Homo sapiens: one gene and its partner. The protein of the gene in region 2 purifies or fractionates together with the protein of the main gene of each other region. This does not show direct contact. Each region holds a gene or a part of one and is shown on either strand. Other genes may lie near its edges.

What was found.
Region 1: the proteins of MOB1B (region 2) and LRCH2 purify together in Homo sapiens (affinity purification with mass spectrometry; 3 studies listed by BioGRID and IntAct, with this or other methods). This does not show direct contact.

Annotation. Positions count from the first base shown.
Region 1 is NC_000023.11:115,112,033-115,119,124, forward strand, and holds part of LRCH2 (leucine-rich repeat and calponin homology domain-containing protein 2), read right to left. Parts: intron 1,304-7,092; coding exon 1,184-1,303; 3' UTR 1-1,183. UniProt on the Homo sapiens protein: May play a role in the organization of the cytoskeleton.
Region 2 is NC_000004.12:70,982,309-70,988,700, forward strand, and holds the end of MOB1B (MOB kinase activator 1B), read left to right. Parts: 3' UTR 1-5,860; downstream 5,861-6,392. UniProt on the Homo sapiens protein: Activator of LATS1/2 in the Hippo signaling pathway which plays a pivotal role in organ size control and tumor suppression by restricting proliferation and promoting apoptosis.

The DNA of each region.
Region 1 (7,092 bases), on a different chromosome or scaffold from region 2:
AAGGACTTTGTGTAACACAGTATCTCATGAAAATATTTATAGAAGAGTCTGTGTTTAATTTAACATCAAAGTAATTGAAGATCACAAGGTTTACAGGATTCACAAATGGCCAGATTTTGAGTAAAAACCTATTCCTCAACTGCTGCTCTCTGAGTATAGCTAAAGGCAGCACTGATAGAATGCTGCTCAAAGGGAAGATATAAACCCAAACTTTGGCAGTTTTATCAAAATGTCCTTGATAATTAGTACTTCACTAGTTCTCAAAAACTTTACTGCTTTGTGTAACATTTTCAATACAGAAATAAAATACTCTTCAAATAATACATTTTAAAAGATGATTAAGTTTCACAAAATTAAATAGCATAAATTAATCATATTAACATTGGTATTTTTGACAACATGAAATAACCAATTTAAGGGAAACTGCAATGGACTAACTAAAAAACCACAAATGTCACAATGTGAGGCTCATTTAAATCCTCACATATTACTGACTTTACAAAATCTACTAAAATATTTTAAAGTTCCATTGACTCTATTAATACATTTAAAAAATTGCAAAAATGCTTAAGACTATGTAAGAGTCATCAATTACACAGGCACTTCACATGTAAACAATCTACAGTACAACTGAAAATATTTTGGCACCAACCTATAATACTAAAAGAATTTAATATAAAGCCAGAATTGTTTTTTCTACTCCTTTTTTCTAGAAAACTAAGACCAAAGATTGAAGAAATTGTGTATAAACTAGAATTAGAAGTGTATTAAATAACTCAAATATAGAATTGCTCTAAATTGCTAAAAAAAATTACCTTTATCCAGATGTTTACTAATATGCTATGATGTAAAAAAATTAAACCTAATGTGATTATTAAATTGAAACTACATTTTAAATTTAGTATCAGTCTGCTTTCTGAAAAATAATCAAGATTATCAACTGACTTAGTAAAAAGAGAATTTGAGTTTATCAAATACTCTTATTAAGTTAATCCAGTTTTCCCCCAAAGAAGTTCGGGCAATTCAATGTTTAAGTTTGATGTTTCAATGTAATTTTTTTAAAATCCTAAGGCGTGACCTAAGGCAAACTATTTTTGACGGAATATTCTTATTCATGAATTTGAAATATTTGAAATCACTTCAAATAAATGAAACTATACACTTAGAATTTTAAAATGTTATATTAAGCCACAGAAAGCTGAGATGCCTTGGTTGTTGGTAATTCAAGGAGCGCCTGAACTGTGACACCAACTTTCACAAGTCCTCGTTCTTCCAAAATATGATGAGGCAAACAAAGTCTTTCCTGGAGAAAAAAAAGAGATATTTGAACATTCATTTTTTAGAAGTGTAATAAAATTAAGTCAGAATTTGATTTTAAAAACATGATTTCTATAAAATGTCAAGAAAACTACATAATTCTAAGTTTTCTCTTATAAATATTGTAATCTAAAATGTTTTTAGATTCTTAATTTATACTAAGAAAAAAGATTATAGAAGTCGGCCTTGTTTGAAATGCTGTCATTCCACACTTGTACCTCTTTCTCTACAAAGAAAATGTTTATAAAAGAGTTGGTCACCACTTTTGGATTTCCCACTCACTACTCAACCACTGCTATCTTACATCTAACCCTAAAGCATATGCCCACTAAAACTATTTTAGTAAAAATCACCAATGCCATCTTAAATGTCAAATGTTGCACATGTCTAGTTGACTGCTCAGTCATATTATGCCTTTGATTAATGCCTTTCTGGGAACCTTACTCCTCCCCTGTCTTGTGTGACACCATTCTTTTCTACTTCAACTTTTCTGACAGCAATTGTGCAGTAGCTTTCATTAATTAGCCCTCACCGATCCTCTTCCAACATTCCAAATGTTTCCAAGGGTTCTGTCTTCACTCTCTTCTCTTTTACACTATACCCTCTCTTTTGGTATTCTCATCTATTTCTAGTTTTAACTACCCCTTCCATACCGATGGCTTCCAAGTTTTTATTTCCTCCCAAGATCTCTCTATTGATCTCCAAATACAATATCAACTGGACACAGCCAAATGGACATCTAACAGACATATCAAAATCAATGTGTCCACAACAGAACTACTTTACCAAATTAATTTGCCCTTCTGCGATCCATGTCTTAGTAATACACTATTCAATCTCCATTGACAAACCTGTGAAATATAATAGTCTTCCTCTTTCTTCCTTACTCCCATAACCCATTCTCCAAATACTAATGATGGTATCCCATAAAGAGTTCTCAAAATTATTGCCTCATCTCCATCTTCACTGCTATATTTGTTGCCCTCTTAATATTTTGCTTATTTATTCAAATAACCACTGAAGTGTATGCTAGAAAAGAAGGAAGGCTTCAAATCAATGACTTCAGCTTCCACCCTAGAAACTAAAAAAAGAAGAGCAAATTAAACCAATGGCAAAAGAATGGTGCAAATAATGAGAATGAGAGAGGAAAACAATAAAGTAAAAAAACAAAAAACAATAGATAAAAAAAATCAATGCAACCCAAAGTTAGTTCATTTAGAAGATTTTTAAAAATTCATAAACCTCAAGCTAGGCTAATCAGGAAGGAAAGAGAGAATACACAAATTACCAATATCATAAATAAGGGAAGTGACACCACAAGATATTCTACAAATACCAAAATGATAATAAGGAGACATTATAAATAACTTCATAATAATAGTTTGACAAGTTAGATGAAATGGATGAATTCTTTGAAAGAATAATTAAATGATTCTGTAAAGAGAAACTCCTAAGGCACAGAAACACACACAAAAAAACTATTATAGAACTAATAAATGAGTTCTGCAAGGTTGCAGAATACAAGATCAATAAAAGAAAATCACTTCTATTTCTATGAAGTAGCAATAAAAAATTGACAGTGGAATTAAAGAAATAATTATATTTATAATAGTACCAAAGAGAATAAAATACTAAGCATTTAATTTAACAAATCTAATGAAAGACTCATACACTGAAAACTACAAAACACTGTTGGAATAAAAATTAAAAGATATAAATAAATGGAAAGATGTCTCATGTTAATGGATCACAGGAATAAACATTGTGAAGATGACAATATTCCCCAAATCATTTTAGATTCGGTAATCCCAGCAAAATCCCAAGTGGCTTTTTTGCAGAAATTGACAAGCTAATCAATCCTAAAATTGATATGGAAATGCAAGGGACTCAGTATAGCCAAAACAACCTTGATACAGAACAAATGTGGAAGACTCACACTTCTTGATTTCAAAATGCATCACAAAATTACAGTAAGCAAGACAGTGTGATACTGGAATAAGGAATTTAGTGGTAAAAAAAACTGAGAATCCAGAAATAAAGCCTTATATTTATGGTCACCTGATTTTTGACAAAGGTGCTAAGACAGACAATTCAATGGGGAAAAGAAGAGTCTTATCAACAAATGGTGCTGGGAAAATTGGATATCCACATGTGAAAGAATGAATTTGGATCCGTACCTCATACCATGCACAAAACTGATCTCAAAATGGATCACAGACAAAAAGGTAAGCCCTAAAACTATAAAACTTTTAGAAGAAAACACAGGTGTAAATCTTTGTGACCCTGAATTACACAATGTTTTCTTAGATATGATATCAAAATCATAAGCAGCAGAAGAAAAAATGGGATAAACTACACTTCATCAAATTAGTAACTTTTGTGCTGTAAATGATACCATCAAGAAAGTGAAAAGACAACCTGCAGAATGGGAGAAAATATTTGCAAATCATGTATCTCTTAGGCAATTTGTATCCAGAATACATAAGGAACTACAACTCAAAAAAAAAAGATAAATAATCTAACTCAGAAATGAACACAGGGTTTCAATAGACATTACTCCAAAGAACATATACAAATCAATAAGCACAAGAAAAGATGCTCAACATCATTAACTACTAGGGAAACGCAAATCAAAACCGCAATAAGATATCACATCACATACACACTAAAATAGCTACAACCAAAAAGGTAGACAGTAGTAGCCATTGTTGGTGATGATGTGAAGAAATTAGAACCCTCATATATTGCTGGTGGAAATGTAAAAATAGTGCAGCCACTTTGCAACATATTTTGTCAGTTTCTTAAAAAATATAAACATAGAGTTACCATATAACCTAACAATTTCACTGCTAGGTATAACCAAGAGAACTGAAAACAAGTGTTCAAAGAAAAACTTATTCACGGATGTTCAAAGCAACATTATTCATAATAAACAATGAGTGATAACAATCCAAATGTCTATCAACTGATGAATGGATAAACAACATGTGGTATGTATTTAGAACAGAACACTATTCAGCCATAAAAAGAAATGAAGTACTGATTTAGGCTACAAATGGATGAACCTTGGAAAAATTATACTAAGTCAAAGAAGCCAGACACTAAAGACCACATATTGTATGATTTCATTATATGTCATGTCTAGAGTAGGCAAATCCATAGAAAGAACAGAGGAAGGACTGCGAATGGGCAAGGGCTGTGTTTCTGGGGTGACGAAAATATTTTAAACAGATTGTTGTTAACTGTTGCTGAACTCTGTGATTATGCTAAAAACCATTTAATTGTACACTTTAAATCAGTGAATGCTATGGCATTGTAATTATATCTCAATAAAAATATTTTCTTAAAAAAATCAATGTATATGCCCAATCTCAGGCTTAAAAAAAGAGAACTTCAATCCATACTTTTTAACCACATACAAAAACTAACTCAAAATTGATCATAGACATGAACACAAAACCTAAGATTATAAAATTTCCAGAAGTAAACATAGGAAAGAAATCTTTGTGGCCTTGGATTATACGAAGATTTCCTAGGTTTGACACAAAAAGCACAGCCCATTTTAAAAAATAAATTGTACTTCAATAAGTGAAGATCCTGCTCCTTGAAAGACACTCTAAGGACAATGAAAGGACAAGCCAAAGATTTGGATGCAATATTTATAAATCTGGTAAATGTCTTTATCCATAACTTGTAAAGAAATCTGAAATTCAATCATAGGAAAATAAACAACCCAATACAAAATATACCTCAGATTAGAATATGTACTTCAAAAAAGAAAGTATACTTCAAAGTACTTCAAAAAGAAGATATACAGGTGGCAAATAAGCCTTGAAAAGATGATCGGCATCATTAGTCTTTAGGAAAATGCAAATTAAAACTGCACTGGCAAGTCAGTACATACATATCACAATGACTAAAATTTTTAGAAGATTGATCATACTGAATGTTAGTGAGGATGTGGAGGAACTGGAACTCTCACATACTGCTGACAGGAATGTAAAACAGTACAACCACTTTGGAAGAGTTATGTAGTTTCTTAAAATGTTAAGTATGCACTTCCATATGTTCCAGTTATTCCACTGCTAGGTATTTACTAAAAATTAAAGAATGTATAAATCCATACAAAGACTTGTATACAAATGTTCATAGCAGCTTTATTTGTAGCAGCCGCTAAAACTGGAAACAACCCAAATGTCCATCAGCAGGTCAAGGGATTAACAAACTGTGGTATATCCATACAATAAAATACTATCCAGAAATGAACAGCAATGGTCTATTCATACATGCAACAACACTGACGAGTCATAAAATAATTATGCTGAGTGAAAGAAGATAGAAAAATATAATACATATTGTATCATTCCATTTATATAAAACTCTAGAAAGTGCAAACTAATCTGCAATGACAGAAAGCAGATTAGTGGTTGCTGGAGAAAGAAGGATTGCAAAGACACATGAGGAAATTTTGGGGGGCAGTAGATATGTTCATTATTTTGACTGTGGTGATGATTTCATGGTGTATGCATATGTCAAAATTGATCAAATTGTACACTTTATTTATATGCCCTATATTGTATGTTAATAACTCAATAAGGCTGTTAAAAATTGGAAAACATCCTAAAACAAAGAAAATTAATTTAAAAATTATTATATATTACCAATTCTGAGTTCAGAGAAAAGCAATGAAGCTAAAAATAAAACCCTTAAAACAAAAATGACATAATATTAGTGAGGTAGTGAATGCTTGTAATCCCAGTTATTTGTGAAATGGAAGTCTAGAGCTCAGGAGTTCCAGTCCAGCCTGGGCAACACAGTCAGACTCCATCTCTAAAAAAAGGGTTTTTTTTAACCCTTCAAAAAATTAATGAATCCAGGAGCTGGTTTTTTGAAAGGATCAACAAAATTGATAAACCGCTAGCAAGACTAATAAAGAAAAAAAGAGAGAAGAATCAAATAGACACAATAAAAAATGATAAAGGGGACATCACCACTGATCCCACAGAAAAACGAACTACCACCAGAGAATACTACAAACACCTCTACGCAAATAAACTAGAAAATCTAGAAGAAATGGATAAATTCCTCTACACATACACCCTCCCAAGACTAAACCAGGAAGAAGTTGAATCTCTGAATAGACCAATAACAGGATCTGAAATTGTGGCAATAATCAATAGCTTACCAACCAAAAAGAGTCCAGGACCAGATGGATTCACAGCTGAATTCTACCAGAGGTACAAGGAGGAACTGGTACCATTCCTTCTGAAATTATTCCAATCAATAGAAAAAGAGGGAATCCTCCCTAACTCATTTGATGAGGCCAGCATCATCCTGATACCAAAGCCGAGCAGAGACACAACCAAAAAAGAGAATTTCAGACCAATATCCTTGATGAACATTGATGCAAAAATCCTCAATAAAATACTGGCAAACTGAATCCAGCAGCACATCAAAAAGCTTATCCACCATGATCAAGTGGGCTTCATCCCTGGGATGCAAGGCTGGTTCAATATACGCAAATCAATAAATGTAATCCAGCATATAAACAGAACCAAAGACAAAAACCACATGATTATCGCAATAGATGCAGAAAAGAACTTTGACAAAATTCAACAACCCTTCATGCTAAAAACTCTCAATAAATTAGGTATTGATGGGACGTATCTCAAAATAATAAGAGCTATCTATGACAAACCCACAGCCAATATTATAATGAATGGGCAAAAACTGGAAGCATTCCCTTTGAAAACTGGCACAAGACAGGGATGCCCT
Region 2 (6,392 bases):
TGAGGAGTTTTTTAATAATATTGTGTGCTGCAAGAAAGTGCTTGTTGATTGAACTGCCGATGGATTGGTTTCTGTGTGGTATAAATTGTGGCCCATTTATGAAGTCCCCAAAAGAGTTATGTTTTTAAGTGCCTTGGCAGGCTCACTTCTGAGGTGCAAAACATAGATATAGAACTGAACAGGGCTTGAAACAATATTAGGATTACTACCCAGGGCACTTACTGGTGCATGTTGTAACATATCTATGATAAAAGCCATAGTTTACCTAAAATGGTGATTTCCAGCCTTTACTGCTTTGAAGAAACAGAATTTGTAAAGGTATGCATGTAGAACATAAAAAATATTTCTTAATTATTTTTTATATTGATGGTAATATATTACGTTCAACAATGCTTAAAGCTCTACAAGCAGGTCTTTTCCCACCTCTTGATATCTGTGATACTGAAACTTGAGGATGTTGAAATGTATTACATTTTGGCTTCTTTCTACATGTTAACTGCACTGTAGATGTAAAAATTCAGGTTATATATAGGATTGCCATCTTCAGAGGTGATGCTGAACTGTGAGGTTTCCTAGTAATTGCCAAATGAGCCGTAAGTCTGCAGAATTCCCTTCTACTTTGAAGAGAAGGGGATAGGAATGTATATTTGGCTGGGGGCATGGAGATGTTCGTATGTATGAGGAGTTAGGGATGGGGAGTCAAGTTCTAGAAAGTTTTGTCTGAAAACCTTTGAATAGAATGGCATGAAGATTTTAATCAATTACTTATAAACAAAGTCTTAGAGACTTCCTTTTAGGAATCAACTTCCATGAGAAGTTAAAAATAAATTATTAATTTTAGGTACAGACATTAAACATGGAATTTAAGGACTGTTGGGGGAAATTGATCACTTCTTAGCATTTCCATTCAGTGAATGGAGCTGATGTTTGCCTGTCATTTTAAGATGATACCATACCTTCTTTGGTTATTATAGGTCCAGTTTGAAGCATTCTGACTTCTGGTTTTTCCACCCTGAAAGGAAATGTTTTTCTTTGCAGCAGTATTAGATAATGAAAAATGCTAATTCAGTAGTTATTAACTTCTAAATTTTATTCGCCATGACTTTCTAGTGAATTATTACCATAAATAACAATTTCAGAAACTTAGTTTTTAGAATAAATATTAATTTTTCCACTTCAGTTTTATTCTAGAAAATACCCTTTTTAGAAATCCAGTTTTAGTTTTGTCATTTTCGATAAATCTTTCTTCAGTTAGAAATATATATCCTTCCTTCAGTTGAAACATATACCTTTTTCACATCTAGGAAGAAATGCTTGCTCTGAAATAGTATAGATTAAAAACACTCAGTAGAAAAGAATCTAAAATTAAATGAATTTGTTTTGCCATTAAAGTAGAGCAGTGATACAATTTAATGCCATTACAATTATGTTGACTAGAAACTGCCTTTTTCTCCACTTCATTTCTAGCAATTATTTACCAAGTACCAACAGTAGAAGTAACAGGAAAGCCTGGCAGAGTTAAATATCTTGGACATTTATTGGTAAAGCTTATTTATAAACTGCAGTCAGAGCTAGTTAATTTCCTTAAATCTTTTTGTATTCAGATAGATAATATGAATCATTATGGGTTGATTCAGAAATAAAATTTGTGAGGTGATTTTGAATCTTGTCCATATAGGAAAATGAAGCACAGAATTACTCAGTCTTCCATATTGTATTTGACTTCATATCAATCTAGTAAAAAAGGAGTTGCAATAGCCAAGTATAGAGAGAATAGTGAAAAATTAATCTTGCCCTTTCAAGCCTTATACAGTAGTACACTGTACTTGTTTTTAGTAGTAAGACCTACTTTCCCACTATATGTAGATAGTTTGTTTTCACTGTGCCAGAATCTCAGGTGCCTGCTTAGAGTATTTCTTTAATCACAGTCACTGGGAAGTAAGGAGATGTATATATGTGTATATATGGTAACAAAGCATAGCAGTTCTCTAGGGGAGAGGCCTGGCATTGCACATGGTGTTACATGGCTACAAGTAAGGAAAAAATCAGAAAGTGAAAGAACTGATGTAATAAAAGGTTGATTTGGTTGGTTCCCATGAAAGTTAGTAAGATGCCCTTTTAAATATAAGGATCAGTGCTTTGTTCTGCAGCAGAGTTTGCTGATAAATGTCTGTTGGATTCTTTTTGGATTTCTTTAATTAATTTGTAAGTAACCAAGATAATTATTTTCCCCCTTGCTCTCTATATTAATACGTAGCTATAAAGCAACAGTTGGTTTTCTTATCCTTTGATAAAAGCATCCCATAAAATATAAAGTAGTAAGTTAACATAGTATTATTGTCACACACAATGCTTTTTTTGGTTAAATGTTGATACGAAGCAATGTTTTGGAATTACTTTAATTGATGGAGTAGTGGTGGTAGAGAGAAATTAATAACAAAAAGAGTGAAAATATTTTAATTAGCAGTAGATGGTGCTACTGGCTTTCATTTGCTGACTTGATTATTCCCTTTCTCTTAAAAACCATGGCATTAGACTGCACTAAATTAACAAGCATGTTAGTTGCTGGTAGAGGTTTTGGAGGTTAATTTACCTTAAATTGGAAGACTTTTAATTGCAGTCTCTTTCTACCTTCCCTCTGTTAGTCATTTGTAAATTCTAAATGGTCACCATAAAATGTATTAGGTAGGAGAAGATACGTTTTATGTATAATATATCTCAGACTGAGTTACTGCCTGTCTTATCAGGATGGATAAAACACTACAGTCTCTTATCAGGAAATAGAGATGATGTGGATATTTATATATTACATATATAACCACCAGACTCCATTTTATATATTAGCATTTTCCTTGCTTATGGGAAAATAGCAAAACAACATTTCATTTATACTTTTGTTTACCCCTCTCTGAGACAGGTTTTGATAACCACTGAAATGGTAGAATATGTGAGATACAAATATTGAGTTGTAGAACTTTCTTTTTAAGGTGAATAAGTCATGCCTTAACATCCAAATAAGAGTTCATCTTCAGAGTGGTTCTTTTGGGAGCACTGTTTATTCCAGCTATACTGCAAAAGTATAATGTTTTTGGAACTGTTCTAGAGCATACCATGAAAAGCAGTTTGTTATTATGCAGGAAAATCAGTTTCATCATTTTAGTTACACTAAACACTTTTGGCAGCTTAATATGACCTTTTTAAATTTTTTTTATTTTTTTTATTTTTATTTCTTTAAGATGGAGTCTTGCTCTGTTGCCCGGGCTGGAGTACAATGGCATGATCTCAGCTCACTGCAACCTCCACCTCCTGGGTTCAAGCATTTCTCCTGCCTCAGCCTCCCAAGTAGCTGGGATTACAGGCAGCACCACACCTGGCTAATTTTCATATTTTTAGTAGAGATGGGGTTTCAACATATTGGCCAGGCTGGTCTCAAACTCCTGACCTCAAGTGATCCGCCCTCCCCAGCCTCCCAAAGTGCTGGGATTACAGGTGTGAGCCACCACAGCCAGCCAGTATGACCTATCTTAATCATCAGCTCAACTGTAATTTAAATTTGGCTGTTCTCTGGAGCTAAACCATTAGGGAAGTTCAAAGGAATGTGCCATGATTTCCGAATTTGCACAAGAGAATGTTTTAAGCATTGGTAGCATAATTGAATAAAAGAATAGTTTCCTGATGTCACTATTTTGAAGTGGAAATTATCACTTGGATGTGGAGGTTTTACTTTTTAAAAACATTCAGCTTAATTACCTTACCTTAATTACCTTAGTTAGATATACTAATGGAAAAAAACCAAGTCCTTTCTCTAGAACTTGTTTTCTATTTTTGTTCCTTTTCATGAAAACTTCTCAATTTAATTTTAACTACTGTAGGATAGTATTGATTGAATGGATACTATGGAAAAGTGGATCCAATATTTAAGATAGAAGTAGTTTAAGGAGACAACAGCCTTTACTGCCATTTTTTTTTAAATGTTTTCACTCAGATGAACAATTTGACTTTAATAAAAGACTGGAGATTTTTGTACAAAGAAATAGGAATAAGTTTCATATACTAATTATGCTGAGTTTTAAGCCTACATATCACAAAATATTTAGAATTGTATAACCTTTTCATATATTTATAACTTTTAATGTCTTTTTAAAAGATGTGGGACCAAAAATATATTTATAATTTGGAAATGTGACTGCATACCAATAAGAAAACTTACCTTATTTTGAAATTTATCTGGGATATTAAAGAATCTACCAATTCTTAAAAACACAGATTTATACTTTAAGCTTATTTTAAAATTAAAGAATATATACCAATTCTTAGAAACACTTTAAGGACTACTCTTAAATAACTTAAATATCAGAGTTTTGTTGTAATATTAAAATTTACCGTGGAAATCACTGTTGTTCAGCTATCACCTTAATTGTGTATGATATGATAAATGTTTAGCAGTAAAGCTATCTTAAGATTTAATGGAAAAGTTTAATTTGAAGATGTAACAAAAATTCTGACCACAGTTGATTCTGAATTTTTAAGGCTTTCCTAATAGGCTGATCACAGAGAATAATCCATTTTGAAGGTATAAAACTGCACTGTATGTCTGTCACTTGTAGCTGAACTGATTCACATTTTGACAAAAGAGAGAAAATACAAAAATGAGTTTTGCAAATGTAATAACTTTTTCTGCATATAGAACTAAATAATTGAAAAATATGGGCTATAGTTCTCAAAGGTAGATAGTAAAATCACTGGCTTTTTCCAGCTGTATGTTTTTCCACTGTGCGTGTACACACACACTGGAAAATAATTAGGCTGATTTTGCAGGTCTTCATTGTTAGAGATTCTGAAGTATTTACTGTCAATTCATAGGTTTCAGTTTATTTAGGAAATTAGTGTTTGACAGCTTTTTTTAAATTATTTCACTGAAGCTGAGATTATTAGTGATACAAAGTTAAAATTTCAATATTTAATTTCTCTATATATTATTAATATTAAATTGTTTTTTACTTATAAATTCATGTTCTCATCTGATTTAATATTAAATTTGTATAGGTGGGCGTTTCTTACCATTTTGCACAAGTTTTTGTTTTTCTGAAATACTTAATTGTGCAGGTTGTAAAAAAGATTAGTGCATTTTCATTTTAAGGATGCTTTGCTCCTTAAATTGTTCGACAGAAATGACTTTTTAGGGAAAGTAGTTTTTTTGGAGCTACTAACTTGTATTTATTATTGTACATGCATAACCAGGGTGGTGAGGGCACTAATCTTGTAGGAAACACTTACTTGATGTTTTATTTGAACTTTTCCTATAGGTTTAACTTTTACTGCATAGAATTAACACTAGGAACAGTGTCATGAAATCTGGGTTGAAGGAGAATACAGTATATATGAGAACACTTAAAGTTCAAATAGAAATCATTTCTGAAGACAAAAGCAGAGGAATATTGTCAGTGCCAAGTAATGGAAGAATAAGGGCGGCATTTACACTGTGCAAGTATTGAGAAGAGTGCATAAAGACAGGGAACTACTCTCATGGAGACAGTTTCTCTCTTATAATCAAGTAACTAGAAGGGGAAAAATCATCTAAGTTATGAAATCCAACATAGGCGCTATATTACAAACTGTGCCGGATTATGCAAATTGTAGTTGTTACTGATCAAAGTTTAATTGCTTCATTTTTGTTTAAAAAGGGATACTGATGTCAGAAAATCTGTAATATGTTTTATTCAAAAGATGTAAATAATGTATACAGACTTGTATGTGATGGGATGGGAAATATTTAAATTCTAGGTGTTTTTTTTTTTTTAAAGAAGAAACTCAATGTTTATAAGAAAAAAATGAATAAATAGTTACGTTTGGCCATGAATCCTGACTTTGCATTACTGTTTATTTTTGCTATAGGCATTCCCACACTAAACACATTCCAAGGGAAATATTGATGGCATATGGAATATGTTGAACATTTAAAATTTGTTAGGCACTATTTTCTGTAATGTTCACAACAACCAGTGTCTTAACATCTTAGAAAACTAAAGCTCAGAAATTGTACAAGTCACTGATTTGGATTACGGTTTTAAAACCCTACTGTGTCTGAACTTGAAACCAGTGTTTCTGTTTTACTTTTTTCACTTTTTTCTTTATTCTGCAGTATGCAGGTGTATGTTTTCTATAATATATACTATTACAGTGAGAACAGTTAGCACAGTAATAATCATTTGTTGACCTCTTCACCAAGCTATTATTTAATATTTTGTCTTCATTACAGATCATTAAGGAATATTAATAATATTGGAGAATCATTTACCAAGTTCCAAAAGGAAATGTGTATTTTATTTTATTTTATTTATGAGACGGAGTCTTGCTCTGTTGCCCAGGCTGGAGTGCAATGGCACGACCTC